2 separate regions of the Homo sapiens genome follow, and region 2 is linked to region 1. Evidence: fine-mapped expression QTL. A gene starts in region 1. The other region holds a variant in brackets. All regions are shown on one strand. Distances are from middle to middle. Region 1 holds the start of SCNN1B (sodium channel epithelial 1 subunit beta). Region 2 has its middle 44 kb from the start of SCNN1B.

Region 1 (8,000 bases):
TAAGGGGGCAGCTGAGTGTCTGGCCCAGAGTTGCCAGCTTTTCTTTTCTTTCTTTCTTTTCCTTTTTTGAGGCAGGGTCTCACTCTGTTGCCCAAGCTGGAGTACAACTGTGTGATCACAGCTCACTGTAGTCTCAACCTCCTGGGCTCAGGGGAGCCTCTCACCTCAGCTTCCCCTGTAGCTGGGACTGTAGGTACATGCCACCACACCCAGGTTATATATATATATATATATATAATATATATATATATATATATATATATATATATATATATATATAATATATATATTTGGTAGAGATGGGTTTTTGCCATGTTGCTCAGACTGATATTGATCTCCTAAGCTCAAGCAACTCGCTGGTCTCGATCTCCTAAGCTCAAACAACCCACCCTCCTTGGTCTCCCAAAGTGCTGGGATTACAGGTGTGAACCACCATGCCTGGCCATTGCCAGCTTTACTGATATCTCAAGAGGATCCAGAAATATGGAGTCTTATATGAACTGATTTTTAAAATCTTGGGAATAATCTAAAAATTTAAAAGTCCACAGGCCTTCTTTGTGACTTTTGCTATCTCTTGTATTCCAAAGGGGAGCACCTCAGCTCACTTCATTTCTGTGTCTTAACCCAGGACCAGGCACACCTTAGGCCTTTTGTAAGTAACATGACACTTCTGGACTCCACAGTAAGCTGGGCTTGGCTCTCAACAAGCGGAAATCTCTTCTTTGGCTCAGGGCTCAGTGCAAAGGACCCTCTGGTCTGTACTTGGGGTGTGGATGAAGTCACAAACAGTGGCTCTAGGCATCACCCCTGCGTCCCCCCACCACCCAAGGGCCATCTCCAGGTCTCCCCTGTTCAGGAAAAGACTTCCTGCTTACTGATGCTGATGAGTCCCTAAGCATTTTATTTACATCACCCCACTAATCCACCTAACAGTTTGGGGAGGGTGCCATTATTATCATGCCCATTTTACAGATGTGAAAACTACGGCTCAGGGAGGGGAAGGGAATTGCCTGAACTAGGAAGGGGTGAAGCTGGGATTATAATGTAGTGTCTCTGATTCTAGCTTTTCATCAACCCAGATCATGGGTTCCACCAAACTTTTAAGGGTCCTGTCAGTCTATAGCAAACACACTCTCTTTAGGCCACAGCCTGGACCTACAGTTTGTGGTACACAAACAGGACCCTGGACAGTCCAATCTGCCAGTCCGTGGTTCGTGGTTCTCAGCTCCTTCTGTCTGCTATTGGAGGCTGAGTTTGGCTTTGGAGGGCATCTAGAGAGAACCCCTGGAGGTGGCCCCGATGGAACCTCTGCCCATTGGGGCATGGCCAGGCAGAACTAGTGGCCTGGCTGAGTCTCAGCCTTAGGGACCTGCAGAGACTGCAGCTAGAGAAAGTGTGGTGTTTGTCCTTGGTCATAGACAGAATAGAGGTGTGTGCACACACCTGTGTGTGTGTATGCATGCATGTACACTTGCTTGTGTGTATGTCTCATGTATGTGTGCCCGTGTGTGCTTGTGTGTGAACATGCATATGTACACACATGTGTGCATGTGTGTGTGTGCATGCATTCATGGGTCCGTATGTGAGCAGTGGAAAAGAGAGGACCTCATCCCCTAAATTCAGATCCTGTGAAGTTAGTTTAGGATAAAGAAAAATAAATTGAACTTAACCCAGAGATAACAATTTATAGAAGATGCTGAAATAAAAACCAACCTGAAAATTTTTGTCACCTAAATTCCCATCGGTAGGCATTATCCACGGCGGGAATCCATGCAGCAGTTTAAATAAATAAGCTGGGTTTATATGCAGCAGCATGGATAACTGGTGATGAGAGGGCTCAAGTTGCAGAATGACATAGGTGGGTTGTACCATTTCTACTTCTAGTTCTATTTTTCTGAAACAGAGTCTTGCTCTTTCACTCAGGCTAGAGTGCAATGGTGCCATCTCAGCTCACTGCAACCTCCACCTCCTGGGTTCAAGCGATCCACCTGCGTCAGCCTCCTGAGTAGCTGGGATTACAGGCACATACCACTATGCCCGGCTAATTTTTTTTTTTTTTTTTGTAGAAATGGGGTTTCACCATGTAGGCTGGGCTGGTCTCAAACTCCTGACCTCAAGTGATCCGCCCTCCTCAGCCTCCCAAGGGTTGCATCATTTCTATTAAATATCCACCTACAACATTACTACATTACTAAGTATTTTACATATTTTCTATGGCTCTGTATATATGACTGTGTAGGTGGGGGAAAGGGTCTAGAAGGAAACACTCCAAATTATGAAGGTGTTTACCTTTGGGGAGCTGGGAGGGCAGGGGTGGAAGATTACAGAGGAAGAAGAATGGATCCCTGTGTTCTGCATGGAATTACACAGCTCAATGGGTAGGCAGGTTGGGTCACTCACGGATGCTGGGATCTGAGACAGGGGTGCTCAGGTCTCTGGGAGCTTTCAGACCCATCCACCCGGCTTTGTGAGAGCTGGGCTGCCAGGGACCAAAGCCAGTCTTGGTTGTTCTGCCCCTACTCCCTGGTGGAGGTGAGTGGGAAGATGTGCCTTTTGTGGACTGGAGGTCTCTGCTGCTTCCTCCCTAAACTCTGTGCCTCATTTTCCCCCTCCACGCTAGAGTGAGAATGTCCCTGTACTATATCCCAGACCCTTTCCCTCCACAGCACACCTAAGTCATATGACATTGTCCAGACATCAACTTAGCACTTGAGAATCCTCAGCGCAGACAACTGCAGGGCGTTCGGATCTGGCCTCCTCCACCACATCACCCCAAATGAAACCCACGTTCCCCGGACGCCACTGACAGCCCACGAGGTAGGCTCCAGGGTCGGACTGCCTGGGTTCAAATCTGAGCTCAGCAACTTGTTCCTGGGACGTAGGGAAGCTTCCCCACCCTCTGACCCTCAGTTTGCACCTCTGCAAAATGGGGACAGCAAGAGAACCACCCCACAGGGATGCCCTGTGAGCGAAGTTAGGTCGTTTGAGCAAGGCGCTCTGCTGAGCTGTGCCCAGCACGTAGAAAGCGCTCTCGAGTTTCATTGTTGTCACCTCTTGAACAACTTCTTGCCCCGCCCACTCTATGCCAGGACTTTGCCGCCGTCTCTGAGGTCCCAGACACGCCGGGGACCCTGGCCCCGTCTGCCTTCTGCACCCTGGGGGCTTTTCCCAGCCTCCAGCTCTCCCCTCCGCCCCCAACCCGTTCAGTCCCCAGGCCGGGTCCCAGGCGCCTCAGACAGGCACCCAAGCGCCCTCCCGTGGGAAACTGAGGCCGGGACAGGAGCTCGCGGGCCGGGGTTGGGCAGGAGAAGGCGCGCGCGCAGGGACTCCGGGCAGCGCGCGGGAGACCGGGTGCGAGCCAGGGTTCGCCGTCATACCTGCTCGGGCGGCGGAGCGGGGACACGGAGGATGCGCGCTGTCGGCGGTGGCGGAGGCGGCGGTGCGCGCCAAGCTGGCGGCGGCGGCCGAGTGTTGGTGACACTGGGACACCCGGCGAGCGCGGCGAGACCGACTGGGAGGGAGCAGGTTCAGGGGCGGGGAAGCACGGGGAGCGCCCGCGGGTGGAGCTTACTGGGCGCTACCGGCCTGGCCACACGCACGGTCCCGGCTCCCCTGGCCACCTCCCTCGCCTCCCAATAAGCTCCAGCCCCCACACGCCAGGTTCAGGGACACTGGACGCCCCCCGCACGCACGCGCTCCGCATTCTCCCTCCCCACCTCGGGACACCAGCGATACCCACATGCGCCACGAATATGTCCACAGACCCCTCATCCGAGTGTACCCCACGTCCCCTCAGTACATATCACAAGCCACATATATGAACACTCCATCCCACCCCACGCGTGTACCTGTCCCGTTCACCTAGGCGAAGCATCGCGCTCACCAGTACAGGCGCGCCCCCATCACATCCACACCCCTGCAGACACAGTGTCCTCTGGGCAAGTTGGTGACTTTAGGGGGACATATGCAGCCACTTTTCCCAGGAACGTTCTTCCCTCCGCCTCTTCCACCTCCACCAAGGTGGAGACCTCCCAGATCTCAGTCATCCCCGATAGGTCCTATCTTTGCATTAGAAATTCAAACAGCCCACCCCGAGATTGGGAACTCTGGCCCCCTCTGGAGTGCCCACTACACCTGTGCTCTAGCCTCAGGGCACTGGCGGGCCTTGCGCATTTCCTCGAATCTTCCCTTCCTTTTCTTTTCTCTTCTCATCAAGTCAAGGTTTCAGGACTATCATTTCAGCCACTTTCTTGCCAATATCCTTAACACTTAGTTTCCTGTATATTTCTCCATAGATTGTCTTAATGCAGTCATTCTCAAAATTTTTGGTCTTAGGAATCTTTTGTATTTTTCTTTTCTTTTCTTTCTTTCTCTTTCCTTTCTTTCTCTCTCTCTCTCTCCACCTCCCTCCCTCCCTACCTCTCTCTTTCTTCTTTCTTTCTTTCTTTTTTTTTTGACAGAGTCTCACTCTGTTGCCCAGGCTGGAGTGCAGTGGTGTCATCTCAGCTCACTGTAACCTCCACTTCCCGGAATCAAGCAATTCTCCTGCCTCAGCCTCCCTAGTAGCTGGGATTACAGGCATGCACCACCATGCCCGGCTAATTTGTGTTTTTTGTAGAGATGGGTTTTCTTCATATTGGCCAGGCTGGTCTGGAACTCCTGGACTCAAGTGATCCACCCGCCTCGGGCTCCCAAAGTGTTGGGATTACAGGTGTGAGCCACCATGCCCAGCCAGGAATCTTCTGTACTTTTAAAAATTACAGAATACCTGAGACTTTTTGTTTATGTGGAATACACACACACACACACACACACACACACGTGTTTTTAACACATATATGTTATTTTGTTTATATAATGATACTTTCCATATGAGAAACTAAAACTGATACCTAAAAATATTTATTAATGCATTACACTATAATAAACCCACTACTTGTTGACATAAATAAAAGGCTTTTTTACAATTTTTTTCTTTTTTTGGTAAAGAGAGACAGGGTCTCAATTTGTTGCCCAGGCTAGAGCGCAGTGGTGTGACCCCTGCAGCCTCAAACTCTTGGGCTCAAGCCATCTTCCTGCCTTAGCTGGGACTACAAGGTGTGTGTGCCACTGCTTCCGGCTAATTAAAAAAAGTTTATTTTTCTGGAGACAAAGTCTTGCTGTGTTACCCAAGCTGGTCTCAAATACCTGGCCTCAAGCAATCTTCCCACTTCAGCCTCCCAAAGAGCTGAGATAACAGGTGTGAGCCATCATGCCTGGCTGAAAAATATTTTTCAAAAAAAAAAAATCAGTGGGAAGGGCACTGTTTAGCATTTTTGCAAATCTCTTTAATGCTTGGCTTAATAAGAGACAGCTGGATTCTCGTATTCAGTCGGCTGCAATCTGTTGTTTTAGTTGAAGTAAATGAAGTAAATTCAGCTTCATATAACTTGACCCACCATTGCTTTTTTTTTCAGTCTTTTTTATTTATTATTATTATACTTTAAGTTCTGGGATACATGTGCAGAACGTGCAGGTTTGTTACACAGGTATACACGTGCCATGGTGGTTTGCTGCACCCATCAACCCATCATCTACATTAGGTATTTCTCCTAATGCTCTCCGTCCCCTAGCCCTCCACCCCCTGACAGGCTCTGGTGTGTGATGCTCCCCTCCCTGTGTCCATGTGTTCTCATTGTTCAACTCCCACTTATGAGTGAGAACATGCAGTGTTTGGTTTTCTGTTCCTGTGTCAGTTTGCTGAGAGTGATGGTTTCCAGCTTCATCCATGTCCCTGCAAAGGACATGAACTCATCCTTTTTTATGGCTGCATAGTATTTCATGGTGTATATGTGCCACATTTTCTTTATCCAGTCTATCATTGATGGGCATTTGGGTTGGTTCCAAGTCTTTGCTATTGTGAATAGTGCCGCAATAAACATACATGTGCATGTGTCTTTATAGCAGCATGATTTATAATCCTTTGGGTATATACCCAGTAACGGGACTGCTGAGTCAAATGGTATTTCTTGTTCTAGATCCTTGAGGAATCGCGATACTGTCTTCCACAATGGTTGAACTAATTTACACTCCAACCAACAGTGTAAAAGCGTTCCTATTTCTCCACATCCTCTCCAGCATCTGTTGTTTCCTGACTTTTTAATGATTGCCATTCTAACTGGTGTGAGATGGTATCTCATTGTGGTTTTGATTTGCATTTCTGTAATGACCAGTGATGACCTACCATTGCTTTTGCACTGTCAGGGAAAATGTCCACAGGTGAAAAAGGCAAATAACATCTTAGGATTCTTATGAAAGTGATTTTGACCTCACAGTTTCTCCTGAAAGGATCTCTGGGACCTCCCAGGGGTCTGTGGACCTCACTTTGAAAATCAATGCTTCCCAGGTGTATTTGGTTGTGACCATATAAAATTGTTGATATTTGACTATTATTGACCTATGAAAATAGCAATTTCGGCTGGGCGGGGTGGCTAATGCCTGTAATCCTAGCACTTTGGGAGGCCAAGGTGGGCGGATTGCCTGAGCTCAGGAGTTCGAGACCAGCCTGGGCAACATGGTGAAGCCCCATCTCTACTAAAATACAAAAAATTAGCCAGGCATGGTGGTGCGCACCTGTAATCCCAGCTTCTCAAGAGGCTGAGGTGGGAGAATCACTTGAACCCGGGAGGCGGAGGTTGCAGTGAGCCAAGATTGTGCCACTGCACTCTAGCCTGGGTGACAGAGTGAGACTCAATCTCGAAAAAAAAAAAAAAAAAGAAAAAGAAAAAGCAAAAAGCAAAAAAAAGAACATAGCAATTTCATATGGTTCAACCCAATACGTTATTTTTGAAGGTTTTCTTTTGGGGCCCTGTTGGACAGTTTTAGAATGAGTCCCCTGTGGAACTGTGCTGTTGTGACCAGCTTTATACAACTGACATCTTCATTCTGTGTCATGATTTCCATTGTTGGAGAGTTGGAGTTTTGGGATGTCTGGGAACTCCAGACTGGTTGATGTTAGGCTGGCAAGTTTTAAGGCATGAATGTTTAAGCAACTATGAACAAAGAGTGTTGTGTTCTGTAGTTAACTTGGCCTCCTGAGGAGAAAACCAACTTGTTTCCCCTTTTTATTAGGGTCTACAGTCTGACACCATTAGACAGCATCCATATGGACTTTAGCCAGCTGTTTAGAACTGTGGATCGTTTTGAGGTAGGAAGTAGGCAAAACTTGACTCTGGATAAGTTTGAATACTGGCCAAACACGGAAGAGGCACCAACAGCACCTCTCCATGAAACAAGGCCATCAGTGCCATTATAGTTTACCATTGTCATGGCAACGCCGGGAAGTTACCGCCCATTTTCTAGCTATCTCTGAATAACCTGCCCCCTTAATTAGCATGTCATTAAAAGTGGGTATAAATATGACTGCTAGGCTGCTCTGGCCGTCATGGGGTAGCCTTGCTCTGCAGGAGCAGGGACAGAGCCTAACACTGCTGCTGCCTCAATAAGGCATTTTCTTCCACCACCAGCTAGCTGGCTCTTGAATTCCTTCCTGAATGAAGCCAAGAACCTGCCCTGCATTAATTTGGCCAAATTTTAAAAAACTCTTTTTATGGATGAAGATTCATGGGTTAAATTATGGCACAGTCAGATGAATTCACGTCTGAAAGGGTTAATGACTGGTTTGGGAGGTCTCTCAGGGACCCCCCAAAAAATGTTCTATTGAATATTTTTGTAGTATTGTGGAAAGACAGTCCTTTTGCTTTCTTTGGGTTAGTGCAATTCTAGGAGATGAGATCAGCCAATCTAGCCCTAGAAATCCATGAGATGTTAGATGTTGAAGCCATATTACCCTTTATAACCACCATCTCACACAATACTTTGCATAGAAGACAAGGTGAATATTCTTTTTTGGGGGTGTGGGAGAGTTGGGGACACCAAACATCCATTCATTCTACTTCAGGTAACTGCACTTAGTTTAGCTCTGGGGTCACCACTCCTTTTTCACCCCTCATCTGTATTTT
Region 2 (13,423 bases), 44 kb after region 1:
ACTAAGTCTGTGGTAGCTTATTACAGCAGCAATAGGAAACTAATTCAGCAGGGGCCACTCCATGAATATTTGTGGCATTGATCGAGTAAAAGGTCTCTCCTGCTCCAATCCATCCCTGTCTTGTTACAGTGATATCTTTCTAAAATGAGGATCGAATCTCCTCATCTCCCAGCTCATGTGACTTTAACTGTCTCCCTTTAACCGAAGAGATGAGTCAAAGCCCCTTCAAGACCCTCTCAACCCTCAGTCCATCATTCCAGCCTCATCTGCTTCCCTATTTATGAGAGTCCATTTGGACATTTTGCTTCACCACAAGTTGGCCATGTTCTTCTGTGCCTACGTGCATTTTATTTTATTTGAAATAATTTTTTTTGTAGAGATGGAGTCTTGCTACGTTGCCCAGGCTGGTCTTGAACTCCTGGGCTCAAGAAATTCTCCCACTTCGGCCTCCCAAAGTGCTGGAATTACAGGCGTACCCACTGTGCTTGGCTCCTGTGTGCATTTTCATATGCCCTCCCCTCTTCCTGGGCTCTCATGCCCCACACCTGATGAAAGTCTCATCATCCTTCAAGATTCAGCTCAAATGTGACTTCTGGAAGACTTTCTCTAGCGACTCAGGTGAGAATGAGAAAAGAAAATGTTATTAAGAAAATCAAGAAGGTGTGGGCGTGGTGGCTCACTCCTGTAATCTCAGCACTTTGGGAGGCCGAGGGGGGCGGATCACCTGAAGTCAGGAGTTCGAGACCAGCCTGGCCAACATGGTGAAACCCAGTCTCTACTAAAAATACAAAAATTAGCTGGGGGTGGTGGCGGGTACCAGTAGTCCCAGCTACTCGGGAGGCTGAGGCAGGAGAATGGCTTAAATCTGGGAGGTGGAGGTTGCAGTGAGCTGAGATCACACCACTGCACTCCAGCCTGAGTGACAGAGTGAGACTCCGTCTCAAGGAAAAAAAAAAAAAAAGAAAAGAAAATCATAAGGAAGAGAAAATCTGTTTATTATTCATTAAGTGGAAGTGGATCATCACAAAGGTCTTCATCTTTGTCATCTTCACATTGAGAAGGCTGAAGAGGAAGAGGAGGGGTTGGTTTTGCTGTCTCACAGGTGGCAGAGGTGAAAGAGGTGGAGGAGGTGGAAGTGGAGGCAGGAGAGGCACGCACACTCCATGTAACTTTTATTGAAAAAAAATTTGTATGTAAGTGGACCCACACAGTTCAAACCCATGTTGTTTAAGGGTCAACTATATATAATCTATCTATCACCTATGTATCTATATCCTGGTGATCTAGGTTGTATCATAAACCTTCCCCTTTACCCCACTGCCCATATCCCAGATCAATAACCACAGTAATTTTCAGCACTCACCTATGCCCTGAATTGATCAGCCTGCACTGTACTAAGCCTCCTGCCTGTCTGCCTCCAATACCATTGGAATAGACGGCGAGCCACTCTCAAGTAGGGCTGGTGTCTTAGTTGTCCTTACATGCACTTAGGGTAAGGACCTTGGGGAGGAAACATCATCATTTCCAAAGATTAAGGACTAGCCCAGACATCCTAGTTTTATACTCATTTGATCTGTCCTCCAGAGATTTTTTTTTTTTTTTTTGAGACAAAGTCTCGCTCTGTTGCCCAGACTGGAGTGCAGTGGCATGATCTTGGCTCACTGCAACCTCCACCTCCTGGGTTCTCATGCCTCAGCCTCCCAAGTAGCTGGGATTACAGGCGTGCACCACCACGCCCAGCTAATTTTCGTATTTTTGGTAGAGATGAGGTTTCGCCATATTGGCCAGACTGGTCTTGATCTCCTGACCTCAGGTGATCTACCCGCCTCAGTCGCCCAAAGTGCTGGGATTACAGGCATGAGCCACTGCATCTGGCCCCAGATATTAAGTTAAACCTCTGAGTCACCTCTTTAAAAAAAAAAAAAGACAAAATGTAAATCACCTTTTCTTGGTTATAATAGTAATAGCTCATTCTTGTCCAGTATTTGGGAAATGTAGAAATCTATGCAGAAAAAAATAAACTCCTACCCACACCACCACCACAATCCATCAACCTATCTCCTATCATAATGGATAGGTAACATTTCTCCATCATTAACCCCACATACAGATGGAGAAATTGAGGCTTTGCAGGGTTAGGCGAGAGAGCCACAGTTTATATACTTGTGTCCTTCTGGGTCCAAGCCTGATGTCATTAACAGGCAGCAGGACTTATCTGTATGCTACATCTGTTTGTTTGGTTTTTTTTTGTCTGTTTTTGTTTTCAATTTCTGATGATCATGAACTGGACTTGAAAGGATGATTTGTATTATAGGATGCAAACCTAGAGGCCTCCAGGGGACAGGTGGGTTCCTTAATGGGCAAAGGGGCCAGGGAGGCTCTGATAAATATGCTTTCCCCCAGTTTATAGCTTAGCTTTTAATCACTTTGTTTATGATATCTTTTATCAGGTGTAAGTTGGAGTTTTCATGTCATCAAATCTAGGCTCTTTGTCCTTTATGGCTTTGGAACTTCCTGGAAAGCTTTGCAAAAGCCTTCCTTTCCCCTGGGTTATAAGATTACCTTCCTCTACTTTCCTCTAGCTCTTTCGTGTTTTTATAGATTTTTTTTTAACGTAAAAATTTAAATCTGACTGGTCTTTTAAAATATTTGAGGGTGGGATTTTTTTCTTTCTAAACAAAAAGTCAAATATCTCTATACTTTTATATAGCATTTTACCACTGATGTGAAAAATCACTGTTTATAATAAAGAAAGCTTTTTAATTACGAGAAATGTCAAATTATACAAAAGTAGCATAATGGTATAATGATCTTCTGACTTCAACACTTACCAGTGTAGGACCAATCTTTTTATTTAAATTGTGGGAAAATGAAACATATAAAATTTGTCATCTTAACTATTCAGGTATACAATTCAGTAGTGTTAAACACATGCATATTATCATACAACCAATCTCCAGAAAAACCATTTTTATTTCCTTTGTTTTTTGAGATGGAGTGTCGCTCTGTTGCCCAGGTTGGAGTGCAGTGGCATGATCTGGGCTCATTGCAACCTCTGCTTCCAGAGTTCAAGCAATTTCCAGCCAATTTTTGTATTTTTAGTAGAGATGGATTTTCACCATGTTGGCCAGGCTGGTCTTGAACTCCTGACCTCAAGTGATCTGCCCACCTTGGCCTTCTAAAGTGCTAGGATTACAGGCATGAGCCACCACTCCTGGCCTCATATTTACTTCCTAATAGCCTTATGCATATAGACTAGCTCTGATTTCAAAGATTCTATTTGTTTACTATTATATTACCACTAAACTGCTTTGTGTATTTTATTTTTAAGATTATCATGTAATAAAATTAACTGCGTACAGTTTCATGAATTTTAACACATGTATGTATTTGTGTAACTACCACCACAACTATCACCCCAGAAATCTCCCTCAGGCCACCCCTACATAGCCACATCCTCCCTCTGTAACCCTGGTAACTAATCTGTTGTCTATTAATATAGTTTTTTTCCAGAATGTCACATAAATGGAATAATATAATTGGTAACCTTTCCAGATTGGCTTCAATTACTCAGTGTAATGTCTTTGAGATTCCTCTAAGTTGTTGGGTGTATCAATAATTTGCTACCTTGCCAGGGCGTGGTGGCTCAAAGCTGTAATTCCAGCACTTTGGGAGGCTGAGGCAGGAGGATCGCTTGAGCCCAGGAGTTTGAAACCAGCCTGGGCAGCATAGTCAGACCCTGTCTCTACAAAAAATACAAAATTAGTTGGGCATGGTGGGGTGCATCTGTAGCCTCAGCTACTCATGAGGCTGAGATGGGAGGATCACTTGAGCCTGGTAAGTCGAGGCTGCAGTGAGCCGTGATCATGCTGCTATACTCCAGCCTGGGCAACAGAGTGAGACCCTGTCTCAAAAAAAAATAGTTTGCTTCCTTTTATTGCTAAGTGGCATCTCACTGAATAACTGTACCACATACAGCTGCTATATGACACTGTTTTAGCGACTGTGACTTTATAGTGGATTTCTCTATTGGGTATGGTAAGTTTCCTGCCCACCAACATTGCTCCTGTTAGTTTCCCAAAAGTGTCTTGGCCACCCCAGTGTACTGATTCCTGGGTATTTTGTGGACTTGGTTGCTATTGTGAGTGATTCCTTTATCCACCCAGTTTTCCAAGCTAGAAAACTCAAAGATATCTCAGGAACAATAGTAACAAAAAACTGTGCAAGACCCTTCTGAAGAAAACTATAAACCTATACAGAAAGGCCTGAATAAAGACTTCAATGCTTAGGACATGTTCCTGAATGTGGCAATTCAGTATTGGAAAGATGTTTATTCTCTCCAAATTAATTGAGATGCTTTGTAAGTTTGATTGATTTTAATCTCTCTCTTTCCCCTTCCTTCTCTCCATTCCTTCCTCCCTTCCTTCCTTCCTTCCTTCGTTCTCTCCCTCCCTCCCTTGCTGCCTCCCTCTCTCTCTCTCTTTCATTTCCTTTCTTTCTTTTCCTTCCTTCCTTCCTTCCTTCCTTCCTTCCTTCCTTCCTTCCTTCCTTCCTTCCTTCCTTCCTTCCTTCCCTCCCTCCCTCCCTCCCTCCCTCCCTCTCTCTCTCTCTGTCTGTCTCTCTTTCTTTCTTTCTCTTTCTTTCTTGACAGAGTCTTGCTCTGTCACCCAGGGTGGAGTGCAGTGGTGCTATCACGGCTCACTGCAGCCTCCACCTCCTGGGCTCAAGCAATCCTCCAGCCTCAGCCTTTCGAGAAGCTGGGACCACAGGTGCAAGCCACCACACCCAGCTACTTTTTGTATTTTTTGTAGATATGGAGTTTCACCATGTTGCCCAGGCTGGTCTCGAACTCCTGGGCTCAAGCAATTCTCCCACTTCAGCCTCTCAAAGTGCTGGGATTACAGGCATAAGTCACTGCGCCTGGCAGGTCTTTCCTCTATCAAGTCTGCCCTTTTCCCTCTTTCCCTTCTCCAACTTCTGTTTCTAATTTTACATATTTTCCCCTTCTACTTTCTTTTGATTTCTTTTGTTTTACTTTTCCTAATTTCTTGAGTTGAATGCATAGTCCACTTACTTTAGAATTTTTTTTTTATTAACAAAAGTATTTAAGGCTAGGCATTTTCCTCTGAATACCACCTTGGCAGCATTCTCCAAAACAGTTGATGTGCACTTGAATGGCATTACTTGAGGTCAGGAGTTCGAGAACAGCCTGGCCAACATTATGAAGCCCTGTCTCTACCAAAAACATACAAAAAAGTGGGCGCCTGTAATCCTAGATACTCTGGAGGCTGAGGCAGGAGAATTGCTTGAGCCCAGGAGGCAGAGGTTGCAATGAATTGAGATCCCGCCACTGAACTACAGCATGGGCGACAGAACAAGACTCCGTCTCAAACAACACAGAACAAAAATCCCCATATATTCTGTATGAATGGGGACTCATTCATTTAATGTGACAAAAACCTGACTCAATCCAGCTTAAGCCAGAAAAAGGAAACTTATTGGAATTAATTGATATTTATCATCATAGGGAATATTGGTATCCCTGTGTCCACTGGATCCGGCACTATGCTGACGTCCACAGAAGCTGTTCCTCATGTCTCCACCTGCTGGCTCTGTTCTCTGAGCTGCCCTTCCCTCCAGCCAGTGTGCAGTTCTGCAAACCTCTTTCCCAACCTCTCCAAGGAAAGCCCCAGCCCTGACTCTCCTTTGTCTGGCAATCATCAGGCCTAGAGAAACAGGGCTGGGTATAGTGGCTCACCCATGTAATCCCAGCACTTTGGGAAGCTGAGGTGGGGGGATGGCTTGAGGCCAGGAGTTTGAGACCAGCCTGGGCAACATAGTGAGACCCCATCTCTATAATGAGAGAGAGAGAGAGAGAGAGAGAGAGAGAGAGAAACAGGATGATCTGGTTAGGGTTGTGGATGCTGGGCTGACAGAACACCTGGTGTCCAGTACCTGGTTTATGTGGCCACCCTCTCTTCCTAAATACCTCTATAATCATGGCCAGGTAGGCCCATCTCAAAATTTTACTGTCTCCTTAACGGGGTATAAAATGTTTCGTCACTTCTTCCCAGCCTCTCTTTACAGCCTTGGCTTCCCGTTGTCTTCCTTTCTCCCACACCCTGTGTTCTAGCTACAGCAAACTACTCCTTATTTCCAAACAAATGTGTACTTTCTTTCTCTGCCTTCGTACATGCTGTTCCTTTGGCTAGGAATACCTTTTTCCCCCTTAGTCATCCTTTAAGATCCTAAGTCACGCCCGAGAATCACTTGGGCACAGTTGGGGCACTTCCTCTCTGAGTTCCTACCTGCTGCTGCTATTGCACCTTGCGTCCTGAACAAGACTAACTCATGTGCAATTGTCTCCCCTTCAAGACATCAGGACCGGGCCAGGCGTGGTGGCTCTTGCCTGTGATCCCAACACTTTGGGAGGCCAAGGCAGGAGGATTGCTTGAGCCCAGGAGTTCAAGGCTGAAGTGAGCTGTGATCACACCACTGCACTCCAGCCTGGGCGACAGAGTGAGATCCCGGCTGTGGGGGAAAAAAAAAAAAAAAAAAAAAGACATCAGGACTGGATCGCTGAAGGCAAAGACTGTGCCTGGACAATTTCCATGCAGCATCTATAATGTAATAGATATTCAGTAAAAGTCTGTTGAAAGAATGTGC[A/G]GATGCTCTCAGCTCTCCTGTACTCTGTATTATTTTACCATTTTTGTGCACTGTAGGTTTCTGTGTACTTTTCCTCCCAATGGCCAGTACCTTTGGCCTTCACTGGAGGGCTGCACATAGGCTGCTAGGACCTGCTTTTCCTGCATGTTCAAGAAAACCAGAAATACCTGAAAGTTTTCATGCCCCGGGGACAGCCCTTAACTCATGACTGACAGTGTGGGGATAGAAATCCTCCAGTTCCTTTGCCCTAATGACCCACAGTGTCCCAAAGCTCCCCTGGAGGGTCAAGCCTCAATTACCCTCTGTGTGACTTTACTTGATAACACACCTTTGTCTAACCTTCTTTCTCGCCCCATTCCCCTTCTCCACTTCTCTACCAATTTTCTCTGGGAACACTTATGAATCACTTTCACACAGCCTGGCTTTGTGGTGTCCACCTGCTGCCCGAGCTACTCAGGCTGAAGTGGGAAGATCTCTTGAGCCCAGGAGTTTGAGGCCAGCATGGACAACATAGCAAGACCCCATCTCTGAAAAAAAAAAAAAAAAACCACAAAACCAAAAACCAAACAACAACAACAACAACAAAATCACTTTCATATAAATTCTCTGTCTCAGATCCCCAGATCTGCTTTTGGGGAAACAAATCTAAAACAGAGTTAATGATTCAATGAACAGAAAGAAAAGAATAATAGCTGAGTGCGGCAGCTCACATCTGTAATCTCAGCACTTTGGGAGGCTGAGGCAGGAGGATGGCTTGAGCCCAGGAGTTGGAGGCTGCAGTGAGCTGTGATTGTGCCACTGCACTCCAACCTGGTTGACAGAACAAGACCCTATCTTAAAAAAAAAAAAAAAAGAAAGAAAAAGAAAAGAAAGAAAGAAAGGAGAGAAAATAATAATGAATCCAGAAACCAATAAATATTTATTGATCACCAACTGCATTGGAAGAAACAGGAGCAGGAGGAGGTTCTTTGCCAGGATTTATCTTCTTAAAGAGACAAGATTTGCACATTTAGAAAATGAACTAGTCTATAAATATATATTTAGTACATGAAATGAAATGTGAAGAGGACGCAGGGACATGACTTGAGAAGAGGGGACTGAATGTGAACATGGGGATGTCAGAGACTAATGAGACTTCAGAGGTGGAAGTGGGACTTGATTTGGGGTTTGAAGGGAGGATGAGATGGAGCAGGCAAAGACCCAGTGAATACAGTGGTGGGACCAGAGTAAAATGATGAGAGTTTAAGGCCGGGTAATGCAGACTTGGAATCCATTCAAATAAGTCTGGACTTTATCTCATAAGGTGATGGTGGAAGGTGGTCAACATTTATTTCTTCACTCAACAAACATTTATTGAGAGTCTATAACTTGCGGCACACCCAGACAGGAACAAGGTGTACTCTTAGAAGGGTGTTCCTTAAGTGAACTGCCTGTTCTGGCCACAAGAATCTTGACTGTATTTGTTTGTAGGATCCACCTATAATTTCTGGAGAGATTTTTTTTCTTACACACGCAGTTTTATCAGTTGTATATCTAATCTTCTGATTATAGGGGAAAGATCATCATTATCACTACAAAAATTCAAATATTTGGAGAGCTCTGCACCATGGAAAAGGAACGTCTTCTATCCAGAGAGAGGACTAGAAATCTTTTTCCTGTGTTTCAAATAACTTTTATTTTCTCAAATAGAACCTTACTTGATAGTATAATTTGATTCCATGCTTATATAATATAATATAATATTTAATTTTATTTTTATTATATATTTTTAAGACAGGGTCTGATTCTGTCACCCAGACTGGAGTGCAGTGGCATGATCTTGGCTCTGCAAGATCATGCCTCCCACTATCCTCCCACCTCAGCCTTCCAAGTAGCTGCGACTACAGGCGTGAGCCACAACACCCAGCCAATTTTTGTATTTTTTTTAGAGATGGGGTTTCACCATGTTGCCCAGGTTGGTCTCGAACTCCTGGGCTCAGCTTCCCAAAGTGCTGGGATTACAGGTGTGAGCCATCATGCCTTGCCAGGCTTATATAGTATTTTTATTTATTTCTTTATTATTATTATTACTTTGAGAGGGAGTCTCACTCTGTTGCCTAGGCTGGAGTGCAGTGGTACGATCTTGGCTCACTGCAACCTTCGCCTCCTGGGTTCAAGCAGTTCTCCTGCCTCAGCCTCCCGAATAGCTGGGATTATAGGCACGCACCACCATGCCCAACTAATTTTTGTATTTTTACTAGAGATGGGGTTTCACCATGTTGGCCAGGCTAGTCTTGAACCCCTGACCTCAGGTGATCCGCCCACCTTGGCATCCCAAAGTGCTGGGATTACAGGTATGAACCACCACACCCGGCCTTATATAGTATTTTAAAAGTAATTGTTATATGTTTTTGTTTTATTCTTTTTTTTTTTTTTTAATTTGGCCAGGCATGGTGGCTCACGCTTGTAATCCCAGCACTTTGGGAAGCTGAGGCAGGTGGATCACTTGAGGTCAAAAGCTCAAGACCAGCCTGGCCAACATGGTGAAACCCAGTCTCTACTAAAAACAAAAACACAAAAATTAGCCAGGTGTGGTGGCATGCGCCTGTAATCCCAGTTACTCAGGAGGCTGAGGCAGGAGAATTGCTTGAACTAGGGAGGTGGAGGTTGCAGTTGCGCCACTGCACTCCAGCCTGGGGGACAGAGTGAGATTCAGTCTCAAAAAAAACACAAAAAACGTTTATTTTAGATTTAGGGGATACACGTGCAAGTTTGTTACATGGGTATGTGGCTTGATGCTGAGTTTTGGGTATGACTGAACCCATTGCCCACGTAGTGAGCATAGTACCCAATAGGTAGTTTTTCAACCCCTTGCCCCACTCCCTCCCTTCCCACTCTTAGAGTCTCCAGTGTCTATTGTTCCTATCAACAGTGGGTTAGATAAAGAAAATGTGGTACATACTCACCATGGAATACAACACAGGCACAGCCATAAAAAAGAATGAAATCATGTCCTTTGCAGTAACAGGAATGCATCTAGAGGCCATTGTCTTAAGGGAATTAATTAATGCAGAAACAGAAAACCAAATACCACACGTTCTCACTTGTAAGTGGGAGCTAAACATTGGTACACATGGAACTTTTCTTGAATGCAGCTGGGCTCTCCCTTACCCTGTGGAAATCTGTTGGGAAGTAGAAAATCTCTGGGGTTGGTTTCGGGCTTGTGGCCCCCAGGAATAATTACCTGCAGGAACTGTGTCAGCCAACGTCTACCCTGCATTTCTGTTTTTCCCCAAGCCTTCAGTTAAATCTGGCTCAATACCTTCATTATGCTTCCAAAGGGGGTTAAGTGAAGTTTAAGCCTGTGTCTGTAATTGGAATGGTGTGGGGACCACAGAGCCGATGACTCAAGGTGAACCGCAAAGTCCTGAGCAGCCACAGTTCAGAGCAAGGCTGGGGGCACTGGCAAGTGACATAAGAATGGAACGTCTAAGCATTCCTTGGAGAGTCACATAGGTCACACAGCAGACCGCACTTTCTACTCTCTGGGAAAGCTGGGGATTGTAGTCAGTACAGCTTGAACATTTGAAAAAAATGCAGCTTTATTTGGTAGACATGGTCTGGTGATGTCTGGAAAGCCCCTCATCTCATCTATTATATATTTTCATAGAGAATGTGAGGAGCCCTCCACAAAGGTTTTATCCATTTATAGAAACACCAACAGCTAACCAGAGAGCCTGTTTCTCTTTATCCTCTCAAATACTGGGCATTACCAAATTTTATTATTTGCCAATCCAATAGGTGAAATTTAACGAAATATATGACTGGCATATATTTAATCATTAGTTAAGTTTGAGCATCTCTTATATATAAGGTTTGAGCATCCCATATATATTATATAATATGTATTATATATTATATATTATATATGTATTACATATATAGCGTATAATAACGCATTAATATATTGTAATTAATATATGATCTTGGCTCTGCAAGATCTGCCTCCCACTGTCCTCCCACCCCAGGCTTCCGAGTAGCTGGGACTACAGGTGTGAGCCACAACACCCAGCCAATTTTTGTATTTTTTTGTAGAGATGGGGTTCCACCATGTTGCCCAGGTTGGTCTCAAACTCCTGGACTCAAGTGATCTGCCTGCCTCAGCTTCCCAAAGGGCTGGTATTACAGGTGTGAGCCATCATTATAATATAGTCCCCAGTGTTTATCATTCCTTTCCTATTGTTCCTAGTATATAATATATAATCATATATTGTAATATTAATATAACAATATAATTAATATAATATTAATGTAACAATATAATTAATATAATATTAATATAACAATATAATTAATATAATATTAATGTAACAATATAATTAATATAATATTAATGTAACAATATAATTAATATATTAATGTAACAATATAATTAATATTAATATAACAATATAATTAATATAATATTAATGTAACAATATAATTAATATAATATTAATGTAACAATATAATTAATATATTAATGTAACAATATAATTAATATTAATGTAACAATATAATTAATATATTAATGTAACATTATAATTAATATAATATTAATGTAACAATATAATTAATATATTAATGTAACAATATAATTAAGATAATATTAATGTAACAATATAATTAATATAATAATACAATAATATAATTAATATAATATTAAAATAATAATATAATTAATATAATATTAAAATAATATATTAATATAATATTAAAATAATATAATTAATATAATATTAAAATAATATATTAATATAATATTAAAATAATATAATTAATATAATATTAATATAATAGTATAATTAATATATTATTAACATGGTATAATTAATATAATATCAATATAATAATATAATTAATATATTATTAATATAATAGTATAATTAATATAATATCAATATAATAGTATAATTAATATATTATTAATATAATAGTATAATTAATATATTATCATAGTAATATGATAATTAATTAATATATAGTATAGTATATAATAATGTATTACATATATTATATATAATATGTATTACACATATACTACATATAATATGTAGTACATATATACTATATATAATATGTAGTACATTCATTATATATAATATCACATATATAGTAGATAATATTACATATATTATATATAATGCATGTACATATTATATATATACGTATTATATATATATTATATATATTTTGGAGATGGGGGTCTCACATGTTGGCCAGGCTGGAGGGCAGTGGCACAATTATAGCTCACTGCAGCCTCAAACTCCTGGGTTCAAGAGATCCTCTCGCCTCAAACTCCTGAGTAGCTAGGACTACAGATGTTAGGAACCATGCCCAGCTAATTTTGTTTCTGTTTGTTTGTTTGTTTTCGTAAAGACAGTTTCTCACTATGTTGCCCAGGCTGATCTCGAACTCCTGGGCTGAAGCGATCCTCCCACCTCAGCCTCCCAAAGTGCTAAGATTACAGGTATGAGCCACCACGCCCAGCCTTTTAGTATATTTTTTAGTCATTTTTATTTCTTCTGGAGTTGACTGGTCATGACCTTGACAGTTTTGGTCCCCATTTGTTTGTACTTTTCTCATTGACTTGTAAGAGCTCTTGATATATAAACAATATCATCTATTTTGCTTGACATATCCTGCAGGTGGTATTCCCGGTGGAATATAATTAATGATCATGAGACTGTTTCTTTCAGTTTTTATAACATTTACTGCATCTTATTTTTTTAGCTGTAGTTTTAAATCCTTACCTTCATTCTCTTTAGACCTAGTTCTGGGCTTACTGGGGCAGAGCGCTCACTGCCAGTCCTGTCACATTAGATATTCTATGCATTCGATCTTCATTTTGGTTCATTTTCCAACTGGCTGCATTACGTCTTCAAGTAGATTTTTCCAGATGAGTGATAGTGTTCTGATACTTGAGTTATTCCACATTTGAGAATGTTTTTCAGTTCTCTTTACACATGAGCAATATTCTAACTGTGCATATAATTCAGCAATCTATTGATATTGCTCTTACATTCCGGATGGATGTAACAGTGGGGGAATGAGGAATAGAGGGAGTGAACTGTGTGAATCAGAAATGAATGGAAGATATGGCCAGGCGTGGTGGCTCACACCTGTAATCCCAACACATTGGGATGCTGAAATGGGTGGATCACTTGAGGTCAGGAGCTCGAGACCAGCCTGGCTAACATGGTGAAACCCTGTCTCTACTGAAAACACAAAAAGTAGCCAGGCGTGGTGGTGCCTATAATCCCAGCTACTTGGGAGGCTGAGCTGGGAGGATCGCTCGAACCTGGGAGGTGGAGGTTGCAGTGAGCGGAGACTGTGTCACTGCACTCCAGCCTGGGCAACAAAGTGAGACTCCATCTCAAAAATAAATAAATAAATAAATAATTAAATAAGAAGATAAAAAAAATGAATGGAAGACAGAGTTGGAGACAGAGGCTGTGGACAGGTTTTGGAGGCCCTTGAAAGCCAGCACAGAGGGCACTGAAGGCCTCTGGTCACAGGGAGGACATACACACAGACAAGTTTTGGGAAGATTAGTCTGGCAAAGGTAATGCCAAGATTTAGGGGAGAGATAAGGGACTTACCAGTTAGGAATAAACTTGGCTGCAAGATATAGAAAGCTATAAATAGGAATTCACTTATACCACATAATAAGAAGTAAAAGAATAGCAGGTACTAATTTGTGTAGCTGCTCATTGATGTTGGAGCTGATGTCATTGTG

Evidence for each region.
Region 2: its variant is fine-mapped to the expression of SCNN1B in unexposed skin (GTEx, PIP above 0.99).

What each region holds. Positions count from the first base shown.
Region 1 is chr16:23,297,815-23,305,814 of GRCh38, reverse strand. It overlaps SCNN1B (sodium channel epithelial 1 subunit beta), which reads right to left and starts at 3,513. Exons shown (of 13, transcript NM_000336.3): 1 at 3,378-3,513. RefSeq lists enhancers at 3,281-3,797, 3,798-4,315.
Region 2 is chr16:23,251,272-23,264,694 of GRCh38, reverse strand. No RefSeq gene overlaps it. Among named protein-coding and RNA genes, the nearest start is that of SCNN1B, 44 kb to the left of the region's middle. The variant A/G (reference allele first, on the strand shown) is at 6,667.